3 separate regions of the Homo sapiens genome follow, and all the other regions are linked to region 1. The links come from fine-mapping of genetic effects on gene expression. A gene starts in region 1. Each other region holds a variant in brackets. All regions are shown on one strand. Distances are between the middles of the regions.

Region 1 (8,184 bases):
TGTTAGCTAAAAAGAGGTTAATTTTTCTTAAAACTAAATTCTACTTAAAACTACCGTAGAATTCCTTTTTCATTTTCAACTTTTTAAACTTTATGAAATTTAACAAATACACTGAACGCTTGAAATTTCTTTGGAGATAGAAACTGGCAGGGCATGCTTCTCAGAATAGGAAAAAGAAAAAAAAAGAAACTGGCAGGACACATTGGCCATTCACAAAGAACACTGGTTTAGTTATCTTTATGATAAAGGTGTTTCAAGGCGTCAGATGTTTAAATTTACAAATAGCTTCTCTAGTCCTGAAGAGTTTCAAGTTAATTGTTAAGCTTATAAATGTTTAGACCATCTCAGAAACATTTAGACCATCTTAAATATAGGTTCATTTTGTTCCTCAACCAAAGATGACTTTGTTCTCCGGGGAACATTTGCCTATGTCTGGAGACATTTGGGGTCATTTAACTGCAGGGAGGGTGCACTGGCATTTAGTAGGTAGAGGCCAGAGATGCTGCTAAACATCCTGCAATGCACAGGACAGCCCCCACAACAGAATTTAACTGGCCAAAAATGGCAAAAGTGCCACAATTGAGAAAGGCTGGTCTAAACATATATGGCATTTGCCTCAGATAGGAAACGTGACAGCACTAAGCCACAAATCCAGTGACAAAGCCAAGAATACAGACAGTCTCCACAAGAAACACATATGGTTATATGAACAGTCATTTGGGAACTCCCTTTTTAAGACAGGGAGTTAGACATTTGACATACTGACCTGGAACCATGAATACATTTCTCATTAGAATAAATAAAAATAGTGACAAGAGTCCTTGGTTGGCTCTATAAAAAAAAAAAAAATACAGTATAGCTGAAATACCACACACTTCATAGAAAACAGAATTTGACAGTCAGAAGGGATCATTTCCAGTAGTAATTTCTGTTTTCTACCACTTCATTTCATGAAAAATGTACAATATCTACATCACAGTTCAGAATTTTCCATTCATCGGAGAATATAATCACCGTGTACAGTAGCAGTTTTTAAGGCAGAGTTTTGCAAACAGATGATGCATGAAACAAATTTGATTTTATTCTTTGTGGGATTTTTGTTTTGAGACGGAGCTTCACTCTGTCGTCCAGGCTTGAGTGCAGTGGCACGATCCCTGCTCATCCTAACCTCCGCCTCCCGGGTTCAAGCAATTATCCTGCCTCAGCCTCCTGAGTAGCTAGGATTACAGGTGCCCACCACCACACCTGGCTAATTTTTGAATATTTTTGTAGAGATGGGGTTTTGCCATGTTGGTCAGGCTGGTCTTGAACTCCTGACCTCAAGTGATCCACCTGCCTCAGCCTCCCAAAATGTTGGGATTACAGGTGTGAGCCACCATGCCCAGGCTCTTTGTGTGTGTTTTTTTTTTTGAGACAGACTCTCGCTCTGTCACCCAGGCTGGAGTGCAGTGGTGCAATCTCGGCTCACTGCAACCTCCGCCTCCCGGGTTCAAGCAATTCTCCGTCTCAGCCTCCCGAGTAGCTGGGATTACAGGCGCCTAGCCACCACGCCCAGCTAATTTTTGAATTTTTAGTAGAGACACCATCTTGGCCAGGCTGGTCTTGAACTCCTGACCTCGTGATCCACCCGCCTGGGCCTCCCAAAGTGCCGGGATTACAGGTGTGAGCCACTGCGCCCGGCCCTCTTTGTGTTCTAAAAAGGAAAAAATATGAGCCAATATTTAAAATCAGGCTTTACATTTTTTATTTTTAAGTAAAAGTTCTCAGCTATTCGTGGAAAAAAAAAAAAAAAAAAAAAGCTGCCTACACTGTATGGCTGAATGGGAATTCCTGCATGGATACTCGGTGGAAATGGCCAATATCCACCCAGCCTTAGCAGGTTCCTCTGCAGTCACCTGGGCCCAACCAAGCACTCTTGTGCATTACCTGTTTAGTCCATGTGGATAAAGTGGATTTTGTGATCCCAGTTTTAGGGAAAAACGTTTTTCTTACTGTTAAGCAATTCAATTACAAACGGAAAAGGAGTAACTCCTTAAAAAGTGAGTGGAAGCATTGCTATCATTAATCAAGAATGAACTATAATTAATGAAGGATAGAATCTAGTACAAACTTGGGGCCAAGGCTAAGGAGATCCTTTACAGGGCCAAGTTGAAGGACGGGCAGAGGAGGTGGCAGTGACCGTCAAACCCTCATCATGAAATGGAAAAAATATCAACCTCTCGGCCAATAAAACTTTTTAAAAGTAAATTCATAGTTTGGTATATTGTATTTTAAAATAAAGGAGTTTGCCATTTCTAAGAAATCAGTTTCCCAAAACTACCATTTTAAGGGCCCGAAAAAAATTCCTTTAAGAAAAAGCAGGTATCTACACAGTCTGAGTTTTCCTCCCTGCTAGAACTGAAATCTGTTACGAAAGCCTCCAGCAGGGGGGCCTGCCTGGAATTGCCTAAGCTCCTAGCAGGTAATTTACACTGATCTTTAAAAACTACTAAGCCCTCCTCCTCCCCTCTATAAAACAAACCGGCCTTTCAGAACAGCTCTGGAAGGGGGGCAGAATGCCAGACGAAGAGACAACTTCCAGACCACGTCTCTCACCTCCCACCCATCAAATTCAGCCCACAAAAAGCTGTGGCCGCATTCTCATCTCAAGGCACCACGGCTTTCTTTGAACACCATATATCTTCCCAATTGGCCTCTTGCCCCATTATGTGTAAAAAACCGACTCTCTTTTCTGCAGAAAGAAATAACAAGGCAAAGGGTGTACAGGGCAACGTTTATATGCATCTACAGCATGCCAGGTGCCTACAGAACCTACCTCGGCCTAGGCGGTCCGTGCCCTAGCCGGGATCTGCAGGCGCCCTCATCCACGCTGGGAGACGGGAAGAGGAGAGGGAGGCGTGACAGGCGAGGGTGCCTGTGCTGCGCAGAAAGCGCTGCCAGGAGAAAAGAAGCAGTGAGCAAGGGCTTCTTCCATTTCAAAAACCTAATAACCAAAACTTGGAGGAATCTGCCTGAGATACTTAAAAAAAAGAGGAAAGAGAAACCTAGGAGGGGGTAAAATGCTTTTAAGACGAATCACTTGTTTTCGTAATAGACCCTGCGCGCGAGTTTCCTAGACTGCCGCGAGAAGAAGGAAAGCGAGGGAGCAGGAAAGGAGAGGCTTCGGAGCCCCTAAACTAACGTCTCTTTTCTTATTAGTAATAGTTTGCTCCAGGGTGAGTCATTTATTATCCTAGCGTTGGCCTCTTTATCAGTAAAGTAGGGGTGAAAATGCATCTTAGCCGGGCTGGCGTTAGGATTCAATGAAGTTAAATGAAGTTAAGCCCCTGGCACCCATGGGATGGCAGCGAGTCTGTTCGTTCCCTGCCTATCCACGCCCGCAGCCAACCCCTCCGACATCTAAGCTACACGGACCAGGGGCAAGAGGCCAGAAAGTGACTTTCAGGGGACACGGGGCACCGGCGTCCCAGCCCCACTGAGCGGACGGAAAATGAAGGTGGAAGGAAGAGGCGCCGCTCCATTCCGGTCCCGGGCGCACCCCGGTTCTGCTTCCTCCTCCGCGGGGGAGCCCAGCCCGCCCGGGGCCACGGGGCACTGGCTGAGAGCCGGCTCCCTCCCACCCATCCTTCTCAGCCTTCCCCCACCGCCGGGCGGCCGAGCAGGGGAACACGAGGGAGAGCCGGTTACCTGGAGTGGGCGTCTGACCCCGGAGTCTCAGGAGGATGCCCAGCCGCTCCTGCTCCACCAAGCTCCCGCCCCGCGCCGCGCTCTAGGCGCTCCGGAGCTGCGCCTGCAGCCCTCACACCAGCGTGGCCCGCCCCGGGGCCGCCCCCAGAGGCCCCGCCTTTCTAGGCCCCGCCCACCACGTCCCCGCCTCGCCCACCTGCGCGAGCTCGGGGCTGGGGACTTGCTGCGGACTCGCGGTTCCCGCCTACAGGCGAGGGCGCCCTCTGGGCACTGACGTGGTCTGGGAGTAGCGCTGCGATCCTAGTGCTTCCTCGCTCCTCTTCCTCACTGTGCTCTGATTCTTAAGAGGTGTGTGAGCGGCGTCTTTTTAAACATTTTATGCCTCCCTTCCTCGAAAGCAGGAAACTCGAGAAATGCTGCCTTTTCTGATTTTAAACATGAAAATATGTTACAGAACAACAATAAAATTAAATTCCAAGGTTCTCGATATGTAAAGTTTAGAGATAACCATGTAGGTGTTTTTTTCTCTCCCCTAACGAACCTTGCTTCCTAAATTTAGCATTTAAGAACTCATTACATTCATGTGTATTTCCACATAAAAATTAAGATCAAATTAAACTGTGGAACAATCCACAGTGCTGTGGAAAGTAGGAAAAAACCTTCCCCGCCCTTATAGCACAGATCTTTGTGTCAGTTATAAAAGTTGACACAGTTCTCTTTGTAACAAGGGGAATATTGTGTCTGTGTCTTCTTTCGTTGGATTTTTAGCTCCTAGAAAACAGAACGAGGTCTTATTTGTTTCCATGTTGTTTAAAAAAAATTCTGGCCGGGCGCGGTGGCTCACGCCTGTAATCCCAGCACTTTGGGAGGCCGAGGCGGGCGGATCACCAGGTCAGGAGATCGAGACCATCCTGGCTAACATGGTGAAACCGCGTCTCTACTAAATATACAAAAAATTAGCCAGGCGTGGTGGCGGGCGCCTGTAGTCCCAGCTACTCGGGAGGCTGAGTCAGGAGAATGGCGTGAACCCGGGAGGCGGAGCTTGCAGTGAGCCGAGATCGTGTCACTGCACTCCAGCCTGGGCAACAGAGCGAGACTCCATCTCAAAAAAAAAAAAAAAAAAAAAAAAATCCAACTCAGAGGCCATTAGACTGTGATATGTTTGACACTTGCCTGATTTGTCAACAAAAATTAACATAAGATGATGGTATAGAGGAAGAAAGACTTCCCCTCTACTCTCTGAGGCTTGGATAACTAAGTCTATGAAATAAATTGACTGCAGGTAGATTAACAAGAGAAAAAGTACACAGATTTCGTGTAGGGGGTATCACAGAAAAGAAAAACTAATATTCCCTCTGCCTCCCCCAACAAAAACTGAGATTTTAGGAGCTTGTGTATCCTCTTCATTGGGGAGGGACAATTTAGGGGAGAGGAAATGATTTTGGGAAAAACTCCTGAACTCCTTCAATGGCTAGCTTTGTTTAATATCTCATGAAATTTTTCATGAGCAATTCAAGCATAATTGTTAAGAGCAAGTAGATTAGGTAAATGTAAATGGAATAAAAGTTTATAAACTTTTAAAAATAATTTGTTTTATAAAATTTGTCTACTTAAAAATAGTTTTAAAAATCTTTTTTGGTGACTTGAAATTTCGAACATATTAAATTAAGTAATAGATATTCATTAAATGTCTGAGTCATTTGTAAGTTAAAATACTGACATGTTAATTGCTAAACATAAGTTTAAAGTATAGCCGGGGCTGGGCACAGTGGCTCATGCCTGTAATTCCAGCACTTTGGGAGGCCGAGGTGGGTGGATCACCTGAAGTCAGGAGTTTGAGTCCAGCCTGGCCAACATACCAAAACCCCGTCTCTACTAAAAATACAAAAATTAGCCAGCTGCGGTGGCGTGTGCCTGCAGTCCCAGCTACTCAGGAGGCTGAGGCATGAGAATCGCTTGAACCCGGGAGGTGGAGGTTGCAGTGAGCTGAGATCGTGCCACTGCACTCTGGCCTGCGTGACAAAGCAAGGCTCCATCTCAAAAATAAATAAATTAATTAATTAAAAATAAAATATAGCTGGCTGTTTGCAATGGCTCACGCTTGTAATTCCAACACTTTAGGAAGCCGAGGTACAAGTATCACTTGAGCCTGGGAGTTTGAGATCAGCCTGGGCAGCATAGCCAGACCTCACCTCTACAAAATAAAAATAGATAAATTAACCAGGGGTGGTGGCCAAGCAATAGATTTATGAATTAACTTTTGGAATATATCTTGTTTGTCAGTTGGATACTGCCTGTATACCATAAGTGTAATCCATTTTGTTTGTGTATGTGACAGGGTCTCACTCTGTTACTCAGGCTGGAGCACAGTGGCGCAATCACAGCTCACTGCAGCCTCAACTTACCCCTGCTCAGGTGATTCTCTCACCTCAACCTCCCAAGTAGCTGGGACTACAGGTGTGTGCCACCATGCCCGGTAATTTTTTGGTATTTTTTGTAGAGATAGGGTTTCACCATGTTGCCCAGGCTGGGTTTGAACTCCCACGCTCAAGCGATCCACCCACCTCAGTCTCCCATAATGCTGGGATTACAGGTGTGAGCCACCTTGCCCAGCCCACTTATTTTTAATGCCTGCAATAACATACACCCATAAATCTATACAAGTAGTTTAGAAGGTATTTCTGGAATGCTTAGGGGTGTATCAGTCAGGGCCCAGTCAGAAAACAGAAATCACAGCAATTACTTTTACAGAGAATTTAAGGTCATGAAGATTGGCAAGGCAAAAACATTGTAGTAACAGAGAGAGAGTAACTGCAGGAAGCAGCTGCCATGCACAGAGCTGGGGAGAGGGGAAGTGTTGGGGTTATCAGAACCTAACAGCCAGGAGAGGGCCCCTGGTTGGCTGGGAGTCAGACCTCAAAGGAGGGGGCGGTACCCAGCTGGTGCTTTTATCTCTGAAGGTAAATATTGAGGCTGGATGGGAGAGGGTGGATTAAAACAAACAAACAAATCTAAGAAACTGGAACCAGCTGTTGCTGCAGCCAGGGAGAAGAGCCATTGCTTGGTAACATGGACAGGAACAGTAAGCAGCTATAAAGTAGCAAGTCCCTCTCCTCAAGCACCCCTTATAAGCAAAACCTTATAGGAAATGTGATTTGCTAAGTCCCAGCCCTGGCTCACAAAGCAGAAGATAGAAGCTTGAGTTTGAACTCTAAGACATACTTCAATAACCAGCACAAGGAGCAAACTCATGATCACAAACACCCAACTCTCCTAATATTATAGATGTGGGAAAGTGTCTGATAAACACAGCTGTCATAGTAATGATTAATACAATAGCAATATATTCTTAAAATGTCATAATAAAACTATAGTTACAAGTACAATCAAATAACGGGACAGAGGCAGGGCATGGTGGCTTATGCCTGTAATCCCAGCACTTCGGGAGGCCGAGGTGGGCAGATCACTTGAGGTAAGGAGTTCGAGTTCCAGCCTAGCCAACATGGCGAAACCCCGTCTCTACTAAAAATATAAAAATTAGCTGGGTGCGGTGGCACATGCCTGTAATCCTAGCTACTGGGGAGGCTGAGGCACGAGAATCGGTTGAATCTGGGAGGCGGAGGTTCCAGTGAGCCAAGATCATGCCACTGCACTCCAGCCTGGGTGACAGAGCAAGATTCCATCTCAAAAATAGATAAATAAATAAGAATAAATTAAAAAAAAAGTAAGGGGATGGTGTTGCTTGACCTATACTTTGTGTTACTGGAGACCAGTGAACATCCTCTCCCGGCTGTATTTTCTGAGAAACCACTAACTACATAGAACCACCTTTCCCCAAATGACTTAGGTAATCATCATGGATAACATCCTTTCACACTTACAACAAGGCCATAGACATGCGCTCCAAATTTCCATTCTCATCTTATAAATGGTTAGCTGAACCATTTGCCCCTACTGATCAATCTGGGCAAATACCTTACTTGATCAAACTTCAATGAGGCTTTTCTCCTTCCATCAGGTCTTTGCCCTTTAATCTAGTCTCAGCCTAAACCAGCATTGGAATTTGGAATAAGCCCCTTAATGTCCTGTATTAGTCTGCTTTCACATTGCTATAAAGACATTTCTGAGACTGGATGATTTATAAAGAAAAGAGGTTTAAAGGCTGGGTGCGGTGGCTCACGCCTGTAATCTCAGCACTCTGGGAGGCTGAGGCGGGCGAATCACAAGGTTAGGAGTTCGAGACCAGCCTGACCAACATGGTGAAACTCTGTCTCTACTAAAAATACAAAAATTATCCAGGCGTGGTGGTGCACGCCTGTAATCCCAGCTACTCAGGAGGCTGAGGCAGGAGAGTCGCTTGAACCCGGGAGGCGGAGGTTGCAGTGAGCTGAGATCATGCCACTGCACTCCAGCCTGGCGACAGAGTGAGACTCTGTCTAACAAAAAAAAAAAAAAAAAAAAAAGAAAAGAAAAGAGGTTTAATTGACTCACAGTTTT
Region 2 (8,184 bases), 27 kb before region 1:
TGGGGACTTGGAGAACTTTTCTGTCTAGCTAGAGGATTGTAAAAACACCCATCAGTGCTCTGTGTCTAGCTAGAGGATTGTAAATGCACCAATCAGCATTCTGTAAAAATAGACCAATCAGCACTGTGTAAAATGGACCAATCAGCATTCTGTAAAACGGACCAATCAGCAGGACATGGGCGGGTCCAAATAAAGGAATAAAAAGCTGGACACCTGAGCCAGCAGTGGCAACCCGCTGGGGTCTCTTTCCACGCCTGTGGAAGCTTTGTTCTTTTGCTCTTCACAATAAATCTTGCTGCTGCTCACTCTTTGGGTCCACACCACCTTTAAGAGCTGTAACACTCACTGCAAAGGTCTGCGGCTTCATTTTTAAAGTCAGTGAGACCAAGAACCCTCCAGAAGGAACCAACTCCAGACACATTATGATTATGGTTTGACCAATAAAGTTTGGCAAAAGAAATACTATGTCACCATCAAGGCAAGGTCATGTAAAACCATGCAGCTTCCGCCCAGTTGTCTTGAAAAATGTGCTCTCTAGATAGAGGCTCCCTTTTAGAACCAGCTTCCATGCTGTAAGAAGCCACATGGAGAGACCAGATATAGGTACCTTAGTCAACTGTTCCAGCTGAACCCTGTTTTCAAGTAATCCCAGCCAGATGTCTGACATGTGAGTGAAGAAGCCATCAGATGACTACAGCCCCTAGTAACTCCAGTCTTCACCGAATTCTTGACCAACAGAATGTGTGAGCAAAAAAATAAAATGATATTGTTGTATCCTACTACATTTGAAGTGGTTTGCCTCATAGCAATAGATGACTAGAACAAACAGGAAACCACATAAATAGAACTAGCAAATAAAAAGAGCCCTTGAAAATTATTAACATGATAGCAAAAATGAAAAACTCGGCCAGGTGCGCTGGCTTAGGCTGGGCACAGTGGCTCAGGCCTGTAATCCCAGAACTTTGGGAGGACGAGGCAGACAGATCACCTAAGGCATGAGTTTGGGACCAGCCTGGCCAACATGATGAAACCCTGTTTCTACTAAAAGTACAAAAATTAGCGGGGCATGGTGGTGTGTGCCTGTAATCCCAGCTACTTGGGAGGCTGAGACAGAACAATCGCTTGAACCCAGGAGGAAGAGGTTGTAGTGAGCGGAGACTGTGCCATTGCACTCCACCCTGAGCAACAGAGCAAGACTCCAGCTCCAAAAATAGAGAAACTCAATAAAAGGGTTGGAAGATAAAGTGAGAAACACTCACAGCGAGTTAAGCAAATAGACAAACTGAGGGATGAGAAAATAAAACAAAACATACAGTAATTTAGAGAACTAGATCAGGAGACCTACCATACGAATAACAAGAGCTCCAGAAAAAGAAAACAGAAGAAAAAGAAAAAAGGAAAGAAGTCGTCAACTAAATAATTCAAGAGTATTTCCCAAAATGAAAGAATGGTTTCTAGATTGCAAAATCTTCTAGGGTATCAGCACAGTGGATGACAATAGACCCACACCAAGATGTATTCATTAATCATGAAATGTCAGAACAATGGGAGGAAGAATACTGCATATACTTTCAGGGGAGGGGGGAAACTAAGCCACATCAAATGGATTCAGAAGCAAAATGTATTCCAGCTACTGTCCAGCTACTGGAGAATGAGTTATATTCAATAATTATTAGACAGGTGCCATGGCTCATGCCTCTGATCCTAGCACTTTGGGAGGTGGAGGCGAGTGGATCGCCTGAGCCTAGGAGTTCAAGACCAGCCTGGGCAACACGGAGAGACTCTGTCTCTACAAAAAATATGAAATTATCTGCGTGTGGTGGTGTGCACCTGTAGTCCCAGCTACTCAGGGGACTGAGGTGGGAGGATCACCTGAGCCCAGGAGGTCAAGGCTGCAGTAAGCCATGATCGCACCACTGCACTCCAGCCTAGGCAACAGGAGTGAGACCCTGTCTCAAATATATGTATGCATTATTAACCAAGAAAGGGGAGGATGTAAGAATCAGAAAGGAGATCTAACCGAAGAAGAAAAAAAAGAGAATCCCCAGGTCAAGGAACATCTAGGCCATATAACAAGCCAACAGACAACCACAGCAGACTGGAACCTGTCAGAAGGCCCTGGGAGAGACATCTTCAAGAAGACAAAACTGGCTGGGCGCGGTGGCTCATGCCTACATATGCACGTAAGCATATGCACACATCTATGCATAAACAAACCGCTGATGGATAAACCTGGGTCACCAACCTATTGCCCTTCGGCAGCAGGAAGCATGGTCTAAGTTCAGTTGGCTTCTAGTCCCAGTGAATACTTATCAATTTCACTGACTCTCCAAGGACTACTGTTCAGTGTCCCAGAGGCTGCTGTGACTGGAGCAAAATACCAACTACTGTGTTTGATGTCAAAGCCATGCCAGTATCTCGGAGGACTGTGACCCAAGTGAGGGAGCCCAAACGCCACCCAAGGTAGGTCAAGGGAAGGAGCAGGAAACAGGTAAGATCACAAGGCGAAGGCCTTGCCATTCAGGGTGGAGTTCTTTCTGGCCAATTGCACTTTCATAGCCTCATCTCATCTTAGGGTATTTGGTCTCTGTCCCCACCACAACCTTGCCCTGCTTGGAGGGTAGTCTCTGATACCTGTCTGTGACTCCCTGCAGTGAGCTGCTTAGCTCCTCTGTGGTCTCACACTGAACAAACTGCTGAGACCCTAACTGTGGCTGGCCATGAGGAACCGGCCAAGCTCTTCTGCTAAAAATTTAGATCTAGTTTTGTTTGTTTGTTTGTTTGTTTGTTTTAAGTAGAGATGAGGGTCTCACCATTGTGGCCAGGCTGGTCTCGAACTCCTGACCTCAAGTGATCCACCCACCTCTGCCTCCCGAAGTGCTAGGATTGTAGGCATGAGCCACTGCACCCAGCCCTATTCTTTCTTCTCTTTTGACTGCCAGAAAAGAGTTCTGTTTCTAGTTCCCCACAAACTTGCAGGAACTGAAGATATCTAAAAGCATACTCTGTTTAAGATAAAATGATAATAAGCAATTTTTCAAAAAAGGCTAAGTCCCTCAAACACAAAGAATATAACTGAAGTAGTAGCATCAAAAATTTGAAAATTAGAGGTAGTGAATGATAACTGACTTGGAGATCTCAGGAAGCTGAATCCTAAAGCAGGCTATGGGGAAAGCTGAGACCGTGCAATTTACAGCCCACCTTCTGCTGAAAGGTAGACTAAAATAGAGCAATGCTTTCCAAATTCTGAAGGAAAACTGTTTTCAACTTGGAATTCTAAATAACCAGCCAAGCTATTGGTCAAATGTGATGTAACAGAAAGGCATTTTTATACAGCAAAGTCACATGCACCTTTCTCAGCAGGTTACTATGAGAAGTATGCCACTAAAAGATGAAATTCACCAGCAACTGTAAGAGCATTAACAACATCACTAACCTGGAGTGCTTAATATGCTCTGGAACTCTTCTAAATGGCTTACCCGTATTAACACATAGAATCTTCAGGAGAATGCTACATAGAAAGTATTATTTTCCAGATAAGGAAACTGAGGCATAAAGAGGTTAAATAGCTCTTCGAACGTCATATGGCTAGTAAGCAGAAGAGCTAGGCTTCAAACTCACATAATCTGGCCCCCAAGTTTGCGCTCTACTGCCCATTAAGAAAAAGACAGGATCTGGCCAGGCACAGTGGCTCACGCCTATAATCCCAGCACTTTGGGAGGCCGAGGCAGGCAGATCACTTGAGGTCTGGAGTTCAGGCCAGCCTGGCCGATATGGCGAAACCTCATCTCTACTGAAAATACAAAAATTAACCAGATGTGGTGGCGCACACCTGTAATCCCAGCTACTTGGGAGGCTGAGGCAGGAGAATCACTTGAACCTGGGAGGCGGAGGTTGCAATGAGTGAGACTGAGCCACTGCACTTCAGCCTGGGTGACAGCAGAGTGAGACCTTGTCTCAAAAAAAAAAAAGGAAGAGACAGGATCCAGTAATCAAGGGACCCAATATAAATGAGAGGCAACAGAAATCCTAGGATTACAAAGACAGATCCCAAGATGATGGTTGTGTGGGAGTACTAGGAAGAAACCAGTCCTTAATTAAAGCAAGTAAACAGCTCCAGAAAATATTTGAGAGAAACAGAGAACCCCTGCTGTAAATTAATGGATTTAGAAGAGATTTTGATAACTAAGGTAGAGTTCAGAATTAAATAAGTAAAATGCAGGCCAGGTGCAGGCCAGAATTAAATAAGTAAAATGCAGGCCTCCCAGCACTTTGGGAGGCCGAGGCAAGCTGATCACTTGAGGTCAGGAGTTCAAGACCAGGCTGGCCAACTCGGCAAAACCCTGTCTCTACTAAAAACACAAAAAATTAGCCGGGTGTGGTGGCATGCGCCCATAATCCCAGGTGCTTGGGAGGCTAAGGCAGGATAATCACTTGAACCTGGGAGGTGGAGGTTGAAGTGAGCCGAGATAGCACCACTGCACTCCAGCCTGGGTGACGGAGTGAGACTCCATCTCCAAAAAACATAAAAGTACATATAATAAACAAACAATATGAAAAAATGCCATTGAGTACAAGTGAGTAAAATATGCCAACAAGTATGTACAATAAAAGAAATCATGGTCGGGCGCGGCGGCTCACGCCAGTAATCCCAGCACTTTGGGAGGCCAAGGTGGGCGGATCATGAGGTCTGGAGTTTGAGACAAGCCTGGCCAACATGGTGAAACCCCGTGTTTACTAAAAATACAAAAATTAGCTGGGTGTGGTGGCACGAGTCTGTAGTCCCAGCTACTCTGGAGGCTGAGGCAGGAGAATCACTTGAATCTGGGAGGCGGAGGTTGCAGTGACCCAAAATGGTGCCACTGCACTCCAGCCTGGGTAACAGAGTGAGA[T/C]TCCATCTCAGAAAAAAAAAAAAAAAAAAGCAATCATGGTATGCTATGCTCAGTTTATACATGGCTATAGTAATATAAACATTGAGTTGTGGTCAAACAAAAAGCATGACAATATACAGAGGGTCTCAAAACTATTTTCATAATAATACTAGGCCATTCTGCACCCTTTTCACTCCCTCTGTGTTATATACGGCGCAGTTTTCCAGGGTCTACATGATGTGTTTGTTTTCAACAGAATAAGTGCAGAAGTATCAGAATTCAGGTATTTTCTATTAAGTCAAACAGTAAAAGAGATTTGCAAAAATACAAAAACACTGTTATTCTTCCAATTTTTCTGAAAAGATTTTCACAAGAAATTACTTATGTTAAAATAAAGGGCTTATCATTGTTATTTTCACAGAAGTAATACTTAAGTTTTTTGCTTTCTCTCTCTTTTTTTTTTTTTTAAGACAGGGTCTCAATCCATCACCCAGTCTGTAGTACAATGTCATTATCTTGGCTCACTGCAGGCTCAAACTCCTGGGGATCCTTCCACCTTAGCCTCTCAAGTAGCTGCAACCACAGGTGCACCTGGCTGCTTATTTTTGTAGAGATAGGGTCTCACTATGATGCCCAAGCTGGACTTAAACTTGATCTTGAATTCCTGGCCTCAAGCAAGCCTCCTGCCTTGGCCTCCCAAAGTGCTAGGATTACAGGCGTGAGCCACCATGTCCAGCCTCAGTTTTACTTTCTGATAGAATATATACCAATAGATATAACCCACATAAACAAAAGCTCTTTGTGATCCTCAGTGATTTTTTTAAAGTATAAACAGTGCTGAAATAAAAAAGTTTTCAGGCCAGGCATGGTGGCACACACTTACGATCCCAGCTACTTGGAAGGTTGAGGCGGGAAGAACACTTGAGCCCAAGAGTTCCAGATCAGCCTGGAACAACCTGAATCAACATAGCAAGACCCCATCTCATATTTAAAAATACACACACACGACAAAAAGTTTTTCAGAATCATTGACTTTGGGGATGAGAGACAGCCAGGAAATGAGTGCAAGTGTGGTGGAGGGTTTTGGTTGAAAGAGAATTAAACCCTCCTTAATGGTCAGGTGTGGTGGCTTGTGCCTGTTATCGTAGCACTTTGGGAGGCTGAGGTTGGAAGATCACTTGAGCCCAAGAGTTTGAGACTAGCCTAAGTAAAATGGTGAGATACCATCTCTACAAAAACAAGAAAAATTTAAAAATTAGCTGGGTGTGGTGGTGCACGCCTGTAGACCCAGCTACTCAGAAGGCTGAGATGGGAGGATCACTTGAGCCCAGGAGTTCGAGGCTGCGGTGAGCTATGATTGCACCACTGCACTCTAGACTGGGTGATAGAGAAAGACCCTGTCTCTATTAAAACAAAAAACAATAAAAAAAAAACCCCTCCTTAATAGTAGAAAGAACTTAAAGCTGAATAATTTAGAAACCATATAAGCATTATTATTTAGAGATATGAAAATACACACCTAAAGAAATCTGTAAAAAGTTGAAAATGGTTAACTTCAGGGCTATGCAGTAGAGAATGTTAGCTAGTAGTCACATGCAACTACTGAGCACTTGAAATGAGGCTAGTCTCAACAAATACTTTTTTAAAATTTTAATTATTTACATTTTAAAACTTGAAGCAGTATTAAATGTCTTTCCCTTAAACACATTACTGTTTCGGTAGGACTATATTTCACTTTAATGACATCATGTAAGATACTATTATTACATTGTAATACAAATATTAGACACATGTATCATTTCAATATTTCACTTTTTTATACTGTTTACATATTAACATTATAAAATTTTGATATACTAGATTAAAGATAATATACTGTTAATTTGGCCAGATGCAGTGGCTCACACCTATAATCCCAGCACCTTGGGAAGCTGAGGCAGGAGGATCACTTGAGTCCAGGAGTTTGAGACCAGCCTGGGCAACACAGTGAGACTCCCATCTCTACCAAAAAAAAAAAAAAAAAAATTAGCCCGGTGTGGTGGCGCATGCCTGTAGTCTCAGCTACCCAGGAGGCTGAGGTGGGAGGATCACCTGAACCCAGGAGATTGAGGCTGCAATGAGCCATGATCACACCACTGCACTCCAGCCTGGGTAAGAGAGCAAGACCCTGTCTCAAAAGGATAAAAAAAGATTTTACCAGTTCTTTTTTTTTTGAGATGGAGTCTCCCTCTGTTGCCCAGGCTGAAGTGCAGTGGTGCAATCTTGGCTCACTGCAAGCTCTGCCTCCTGGGTTCACGCCATTCTCCTGCCTCAGCCTCCTGAGTAGCTGGGACTACAGGCGCCTGCCACCACGCCCGGCTAATTTTTTTTTGTATTTTTAGTAGAGACAGGGTTTCACCGTGTTAGCCAGGATGGTCTCGATCTCCTGACCTCGTGATCCGCCCGCCTCAGCCTCCCAAAGTGCTGGGATCACAGGCATGGAGCCACCACGCCCAGCCCTGATTCTTTTTTTTTTAATGCTGCTACTAGAAAATTTTATTTCTCACATTATATTTCTAATGGACAATGGAGTTTTAGGGAGTAGGAGATTTGGGGGGCCATTGGGAGAAGCATGCTGTTTTTCGTAAGTACAACTCTTTGTTGGGAGGCAATTCGCCATGGGTGGCTTGCATTTCTGTACATCTTGCAAGTGAGGCACTGTCTTTTTGTTCCAGATAATTTTTTCAAGGCTATTTTTATAGCAAACAGCCTAGAAAGACAGAGATGGTGTTTCCCTCCCTAGCAAAGGGCAAACCTTCTTACTGACAATATAATAAAGACAATGTTACCTGGGGCAAAGCACAGCATGCTTACTGCCCACTATAAAAGATTTGGCTTCTCTAAGCTCAGGGTTTCTTTCCCATAATGCAACCCACTGTTTGTAGTTATCACTTGGCCCTCTTCATACTGCCCTGTGGGAATTAAGGCTCTAGCAACCTAAAAGAAAAATGCTGATCCTCTGCTACTGCTTAATATAGGTCATAAATGGCACTTCATCTCTGGCCCAGGAGTCTGTGTCTTTTGCCAGGATCCATGAAAATTGTTAACAGGCTTGTTAACTTTCAAGTAGGGTAAAATCTCAGACCCTTCGTAGTTCTTGACACGCTTGTGGAAATATCTTCTTTTTTAAATCACGTGCATTTATAACTCTAATTAAAATAAGAACTACATTTTTAAAAAGCCTTACAGGTAGTGATAAAATTAAGACCTATAAAGATGGCTAATCAGCTTTTATATATAACTGATACAAATCAATGTTCTAAAGCAGGGGTGT
Region 3 (8,184 bases), 73 kb before region 1:
CACCCATGCAACTCATGCACATGTGTGCCTGTGAGCACACACACACACACACACACATGCGTGTTTTTTAAATAACTGATTACATGTATATATACATACATATATTCATATAATAAGGGTGACATTCATACTGCTCCATACCTTGATTTTTTTTCACTTATAGTACATCTACCCTATAACCATCCAAACCTATAGACATATTACCCTCATCCTCTCCTTTAAGGTTTTAGTTCAACACTGTTTCCTGCCTGCGAATACTTCAACATTTCTCTCCTCCCAGGTGATTCTATGAAGCCATCAAGATCTACCTCATATTCTGTATTCTCCAAGCATTTAGTGCTTCTATATTGCCAATTTACTAGATAACGATACAGGAACCATCATAGCTCAGTGGAAAGGAAGGTGAACTCTTGAGTCAATCATTCAGGGATCTTATTCTCAGCTCTACCTCTAACTAGCTGAGCAAGGGGCTTATGGAGGTCCCCTTGGACATTTTTCTAAATTCCTCTAGACCTATTTTCTCACATAAAACTTTTTTTAATAAAAATGAATAATTATCTTGAATAACGATGTTGTTTTTATACACGTTATACATGTGTGTTAAGTATTTGTGTTAGGGTTCTCCAGAGAAACAGAACAGGATGTGTGTGTGTGTCTCTATACACTGTGTATACTGTGTGCGTGTGTGTGTGTGTGTGTGTGTGTGTGTGTGTGTGGAGGGGGGGTGCATACACAGTCAGCCCTCTGTGGGTTCCACATCCAACTGCAGATTGAAAATATTTGGGGGGAAAAAAGAGAGGATAATTGCATCTTTAACTAACATATATAGAATTCTTTTCTGGTCATTATTCCCTAAACAATATAGTATAACAACTATTTACATAGCATTTACATTGTCTTAGGTGTCAATCGAGAAAAATGACAAGACAAGTCTCAATCATTTTAGGAGGTTTATTTGCCAAAGTTAAGGACGTGCATCCATGACACAGCCTCAGGAGATCCTGATGACATGAGCCCAAGGTGATCAGGGCACAGCTTGGTTTTACACATTTTAGGGAGACATGAGACATCAATCAATGTATGTAAGAACTACATTGGTTCTGAGGGACAACTCAAAGCAGGGAGGGGGCTTCCGGGTCATAGGTAGCTGAGAGACAAATGGTTGCAGTCTTTGAGCTTCCGATAAGAAGGAGGCAATCAGAATATGCATCTATTTCTGTGAGCAGAGGGATGACTTTGAATACAATGAGAGGCAGGTTTGTCCTGAGCAGTTCCCAGCTTGACTTTTCCCTTAGCTTAGTAATTTGGGGGTCAAAAGATTTTCCTTTCACATAGGAATTAGAAGTAATCTAGAGATGATTTAGAGTATACAGGAGGGCCTGCATAGGTTACTTGCAAATACTACAACATTTTATACAAGGGACTTAAGCATCCTTGAATTTTGGTATTTTCAAGGGGTCCTGAAACCAATCCTCCACAGTTACTGAAGGATGACTGTATGAAGAATGACTGTATGTATATGTATATGTATATGTATATGTATATGTATATGTATATGTATATGTATACATGTAAAGAGAGACAGAGAGAGAGAGATTGATTTTAAGAAGTTGGCTCATGAGATCGTGGAAGCTCACAAGTCCAACATCCACAGGGTAAACCAGCAGGCTACAGACCCAGGGAAGAGCTGCAGTTTGAGTCCAAAGACCATCTGCTGGTGGAATTCTTTCTTTTTCTGGAGAAGCCAGTCTTTTTCATTATTAAGGCTTTCAACTGACTAGATGAGGTCCACCCACATGATGGAGTATAATCTGCTTTACTCAAAGGCTACTGATATAAATGTTAACCTCATCTAGAAAAAATCCCTTCGCAGAAACATCTAGAATAATGCTTGACTAGATATCTGAGTACCATGGCCTAGCCAAGTTGACACATAAAATCAATCATCATAGAGCTATTTAAATTTAAAAATACCAAAAGACACACAAAAAAAGTTTTATCCTCCTCCACCCCAAATCCAAATAGCTAGGAGCAAGCAATCTCAACATTTAGTAACATTTAGTCACTTTTCTCAGAATTTCTGTGGTTAGCCAGCTAGATAAACAGAAAGATAAAAGAAGGATATAATAAAAATGCTATTTTTAAGATGAAAGATTATAATTTAATATTTTTAAAAGGGAAAAAAGTAAAGTATAACTTCAAATGAATGTTTCTTTACAATAAAGTAGGCATTCCTAAGAGATCCTTCTAGGGCTCAGTGAAAACATTACGGAAAGCCATTAAGAAGTTGGTCATTTTAGAGCTTTCTTTTTTTTCTTACTATTAGTTTTAATTCTGGACAGAATCCATTTACTTCCTCTTATGAAATATAAAAAATTAGTACAGCACATGACCTCCTGACTTCCTCCCTTTCTCCACTTTCCAAAATTTATTTGTATTGTTATAAGTTTTACATGGTTAAGGTTTATAAAGCTTATGTGCTGACTATAATTTCTGCCGTGTTTCCTTTTAATTTTATATGTAAATATAGTCAGTGCTCATTACCATTTCTTTTGCCAAACCTTCTATATTTCTGATCTCTTAGTTTTGATTCTTCTCTTGAGTAGCTAGATTTTGTCAACAAATCTTTATTTTTTTTCCCCCAAATCATTTTTTTTTTTTTTTTATGAAAGGTTCAGGAGTGTGGTATATATGGTGACTAACCATGCTTGTTTATCTGAAACTGTCAGATTTTACACTGAAAGTCCTGTATTCTGAACAGCCCCTCAGTCCCGGGCAAACTGCACATGGTGGTCTTTGTAGCTGTATCCCTCACATTCCTCTTTCACCTATAAAGTAGCCCCTTCCCTGAGAATGCAGGAAACATTACACAGGCTGGAGAGATGTGGGAATTGTGTCTAGGAGAAGGGGCTGCTCACATGAAGGGAGATGAAGGGATTTGTGTTGGGGAAGAGGGCACATTCCAGGCAGAAGTGGGGACACATTTACTGCTGAGTTGAAAGAGAACACATTCTTATGTTAAAGGAGTAACGGAAAATTGAAGTGGCTGGAGCTTAAGGTACATGAAACAGCATGTAAGAGATGCCACTAGGCCGGGCGCAGTGGCTCACACTGTAATCCCAGTACTTTGGGAGGTTGAAGCAGGTGAATCACTTGAGGTCAGGAGTTTGAGACCAGCCTAGCCAACATAGCAAAACCCCATCTCTACTGAAAATACAAACATTAGCTGGGTGTGGTGGCACATGCCTGTAGTCCCAGCTAGTTGGGAGTCTGAGGCAAGAGAATCGCTTGAACTGGGGAGGCGGAGGTTGCAGTGAGCTGAGATATCACCATGGCACTTCAGCCTGGGTGGCAGAATGAGACTCCATCTCAACAAAAAAAAAAAAAAAAAGGAGAGAGATGCCACTGAACAGATAAGTTAGGACTAAATGGGGAGGCCCTTTGCTTTGGCTGCATTGACTGCCACTCTGTCCTTCAGTAACACTTTTACCCTAGAAAAGGGATGTTGAAGAATTTAAAAGTTCTTGGGAGACTCATACATACTCAAATCAAAATGTTCATATATGCTACTGAGGACCGTATCTTAAAACAAGAAAAGAAAATGCTCATATAGCACCTTATATCTTATGTCAGTTATTTGTTTCTTTCAGAATCATACTTGATATTTCCAGCTGATTGTGAGAATATTCTTCTACTTAGGGTTTTCTTTTTTGAAAAAATTTTATTTTTTTTTTTGTAGAGAGAGTTTCGCCATTTTGCCCAGGCTGGTCTCAAACTACTGAGCTCAAGCGATCCTCTAGCCTCCGCCTCCCAAAGTACCGGAACTTTTTTGGTGATAGGGTCTCACTCTGTGAGACCAGGCTGGAATGAATACAGTGGTGAGATTATGGCTCACTGTGGTCTTGAATTCCTGGGCTCAAATAATCCTACCGCCTCAGCCTCCCAGTAGCAGGGACTACAGGCCACCATGCCCAGCTAATTTTTAAATTTTTTGTAGAAATGGGTTTTTACCATGTTGTCCAGACTGGTCTCAAACTCCTGGGCTCAAATGATTCTCCTGCCTCAGCCTCCCAAAGTGCTGGGATTACAGGAGTGAGCCACCGCACCTGGTCAACTTTCTTTTCTCTTGTTGTTGAGACAAAGTCTCACTCTGTTACCCAGGATGGAGTGCAGTGGCACAATCACGACTCACTGCGGTCTCATACTCCTGGGATCAAGCAATCCTCCTACCTCAACCTCCCAAGTAGCTGGGACTACAGGCCACCATGCCTGGCTAATTTCTAAAGTTTTTGAAGAAGGCCAGGCATGGTGGCTCATGCCTATAATCCTAGCACTTTGGGAGGCTGAGGTGACGGGATTGCCTGAACTCAGGACTTGGAGACAAGGTTTCACCATGTTGCCAAGGCTGGTCTTGAACTCCTGGGCTCAAGTGACCCTCCTGCTTTGGTCTCTCAAAGTGCTGGCATTACAGGGTGAGCCACTGTACCCACCCTTGATTTTCTTTTAAAGCCAGAAAAGCGAACAGCCTGGTTGAGAATTGGGGGCCAGTTAATGTTCCTCTCACCTAAGAAACCAAACCAGTCCAGCAACCTCTTTCCAGTATGTTAGCAATGTGGACAGAGGAGAGGACAAATAGAGAAACCTAATGAAATAGTTCTTTTCTGAAAACATCGCTGTTTTTATTTTGTTTTGCTTTTAATCTGAGAGCAAACTTTCTGGCAGTGCCCTCCCATCAAGGAGTAAATAGTTGAGTGGTTGCTGAAGGGTGGTTGGCAGGAAGGCTGATTATGTTGACTCAGTTGACCGTGGTGTTTTCTGAATAGTAGAGCCCACAGAACTGCTCTCCCTGATTCTAGAACCCACACAAA[A/C]AATCTGGGTTTGGGATTTAGGAAAAACAACAGAAGGTTTTTAGGGTCCATGTACCCATAGAAAACTGTAGCTTCCTGCTTTTATAAAAAATCAATTTTGAGTATATAGTTAGTATATTTTTTCTCAAAATAGCAAATCCATTTGAGAAATCAACAATTTAATAACAATGTTTTTTTAAAAATTGAAATATCTGGCAAATGATTAAACATGGCCAATTTACAAGCAACTTTTCAATCTTAGTGAAAGGGCTGATTTGGATAGAAATCAACAAAATTGTCAGGAGGGGCCATAAGTGAGGGAAGAGGGAAGAAGCTGCTGGAAAAAAAACGAAAGGAAAGCAGTTACTAGGGACAATGTCTCCATTAGTCACAGCAGGCAGAGTGCCTGCGACCGACAATACTTTCAGAGGCCTACAGAAAGTGGTTTCATTTTTATTTCCGTTAAAATCAGAAGAAAAAAATGAATATATTATAATGGACCCAGCCTGGATTATATTTATATTTACACTAATGCAGTTGTGAAATACAATTTTTATTGTTTTTTCTTAAGAAGGAAGGAGCCCACAGAGGCAACGTGGTTGGGGCCTAAGAAAGTCCTCATGTGGCCCTGGCAGTTACTAAATAGGTTGGTTCAAATGCCTAAAAAAATACAGCCCTGTGGTTAATGAAATGTCTTCAGTGACGTTAACATTGATAGCATCCACATTTCCCTAGCTGAGTGGGCCCCCTCTACAGACTACAGGATCTCAGCCCACCTTTTAAAGCTTCCCCAGCCATAACTAGAGACCCCTTCCAAGTGCTCAGTACCAAGGCCAATCAGATTTTTTTTTTTTTTTTTTGAGATGGGAGTCTCACTCTGTCACCCAGGCTGGAGTGCAGTAGGTCCATCTCGGCTCACTGCAAGCTCCACCTCCTGGGATCAAGAGATCCTCCTGCCTCAGTCCCCCTAGTAGCTGGGACCACAGGCACACGCCGCCCTGCTCAGCTAATTCTTGTTTTTTTGTTGCTGTTGTTTGTTTTTTTGAGACGGAGTCTTGCTCTGTTGCCAGGCTGGAGTGCAGTGGCGCAATCTTGGCTCACTGCAGCCTCTGCCTCCCAGGTTCAAGTGATTTCCCTGCCTCAGCCTCCCGAGTAACTGGGACTACAGGTGCGTGCCACCACGACCGGCTGATTTTTTTTTTTTAATTGTATTTTAGTAGAGATGGGGTTTCACCATGTTGGTTAGACTGGTCTCGAACTCCTGATCTCAGGTGATCCGCCCACATTGGACTCCCAAACTGCTGGGATTACAGGCGTTAGCCACCGCGCCCAGCCCCAGTCAGATTTTTCTGTGCTGCTCCTTTCCACTGCCAAGAAGCCCTGTTAGGAGATGCCTCGTTAGTATTACTTTAGCTGGTGTCTACTTCAGCCTTTTTATCTAGGTGCTGTTTCCAAACTTTCAGTTCCTCATGGTGCCCACACAGCACTGGAGAACCTTCCATCCCAACCCAGTGTTAAAAGCTGTGCTGCAGGCACCCAGGAAGGGGGAAGCTTCTCCGTCTATAAATCAGGGTAATATGTTTCACTGAAGTCCTGAAACATCTGTGCTTGTACCTGGAGCCTCCCAAAGTCCTTCATGTAAATAGTAACTCCAGTGAATTACTGGTCTCTGAGCCTGGGCTGAGGAACAGACAACATCCTATCTTCCACTCTCCCATTCAATCCTGTCTCTTGTCCCACGGCATCCAAACACTTTTTCCTCCAATGTTCCGTTCTTCCAGGAAAATGTACACATACCACTTTGGTGCTGCCCTACACAAAGCAGATACTTGTTTTTTATTATACACACATGTATAAAGCCAAGTATTTCAAAAACAAGTATCAATTTTCAATTTTTTTTTTAAATATAGAGACAGGGTGTCACTGTGTTGCCCAGGTTGGTCTCCAACTCCTGCGCTCAAGCGATCCTGCCATCTTGGCTTCCCAAAGTATTGGGATTACAGATGTGAGCCATCCCACCTGGCTAATTTTCAAATATTTCAAAAGCAGTTAACATCGATATATAGTATATCTGAAACAAAGCATCATCAATATTGTCAATGCAGTATGTAATTAATATGGCCTCTTTTTACCATTTAAGTTCTGGTAAACAATTTTGATCCATCATATCTAACATAAAATGTGCAAATGATAGTTCTAGAACTATAGTGAGGAGATAACGAAAGGATATTATGTTGGATGGTAAAGCTCAAGTGGTTTTGAGAGGTGACAACGTGCTAGCAGCCCTTGCTCACTCCCGGTGCCTCCTTGGCCTCAGCATCTGCTCTGGCCACACTCCAGGAGCCCTTCAGCCCGCAGCTGTGCTGTGGGGGCCCCTCTCTGGGGCTGGCCGAGGCGGGAGCCGGCTCCCTCTGCTCACAGGGAGGTGTGGAGGCAGAGGCGAGGGCGGCAGCTGGGGCTGTGGCGCTAGTGGGCCAGCACGGGTTCCAGGTGGGCGCGGGCTGGGAGCGGGTCCCACACTCGGCGCCTGCTGGGCTTGATCCAGGTACGAGCTCCCTCTGGGTTGCCGGAATGCCCGGGGTAGGTGCCCAAAAGTCCTGGCGGCCAGTGCCATTGAGAGGTGAAGCCAGCTGGGCTTTTGGGTTGGGTGGAGACCTGGAGAACTTTTCCCTCTGGCTAAAGGATTGTAAACGCACCAATCAGCACTCTGTGTCTAACTAAAGGTTTGTAAACACACCAATCAGCACTCTGTCAAGACAGACCAATCAACTCTCTGTAAAACGGACCAATCAGCTCTCTGTAAAATGGACCAATCAGCTCTCTGTAAAATGGACCAATCAATAGGATGTGGGTGGGGCCAGATAAGGGAATAAAAGCCACGCCACCTGAGGCAGCAGTGGCTACTTGGTTAACTGTGTCCCCTTCTACTCTGCCAAGGCTTTGTTCTTTGCCTCTTAGAAGTAAATGTTGTTGCTGCTCACCCTTTGGGTCCACGCTGCCTTTATGAGCTGTAACAATGAGCTGTAACACTCAGTGCGAAGGTCTGCAGCTTCACTCCTGAAGCCAGCCAGGGAGACCATGAACCCACGGGGAGGGATGAACAATTCCAGATGGGAGGAATGAACAATTCCAGATGGGAGGAATGAACAATTCCAGATGGGAGGAATGAACAATTCCAGATGGGAGGAACGAACAACTCTGGACGTGCCACCTTTATGAACTGTAACACTCACAGCAAAGGTCTGCAGTTTCACTCCTGAGGCCAGTGAGACCACGAACCCACTGGAAGGAACGAACAACTCCAGATGCGCCGCCCACTCACTGCGAAGGTCTGCAG

Evidence for each region. PIP is the estimated chance that this variant, and not a neighbour inherited with it, causes the effect.
Region 2: its variant is fine-mapped to the expression of GCNT1 in esophagus mucosa (GTEx, PIP 0.96).
Region 3: its variant is fine-mapped to the expression of GCNT1 in whole blood (INTERVAL, PIP 0.92).

What each region holds. Positions count from the first base shown.
Region 1 is chr9:76,454,809-76,462,992 of GRCh38, reverse strand. It overlaps GCNT1 (glucosaminyl (N-acetyl) transferase 1), which reads right to left and starts at 3,811. Exons shown (of 4, transcript NM_001490.5): 1 at 3,688-3,811; 2 at 2,816-2,933. RefSeq lists silencers at 2,427-2,496, 3,487-4,026 and an enhancer at 2,767-2,876.
Region 2 is chr9:76,481,524-76,489,707 of GRCh38, reverse strand. The region is part of intron 2 of GCNT1 (glucosaminyl (N-acetyl) transferase 1); the gene reads right to left. Among named protein-coding and RNA genes, the nearest start is that of GCNT1, 26 kb to the right of the region's middle. The variant T/C (reference allele first, on the strand shown) is at 4,893.
Region 3 is chr9:76,527,996-76,536,179 of GRCh38, reverse strand. No RefSeq gene overlaps it. Among named protein-coding and RNA genes, the nearest start is that of GCNT1, 73 kb to the right of the region's middle. The variant A/C (reference allele first, on the strand shown) is at 4,869.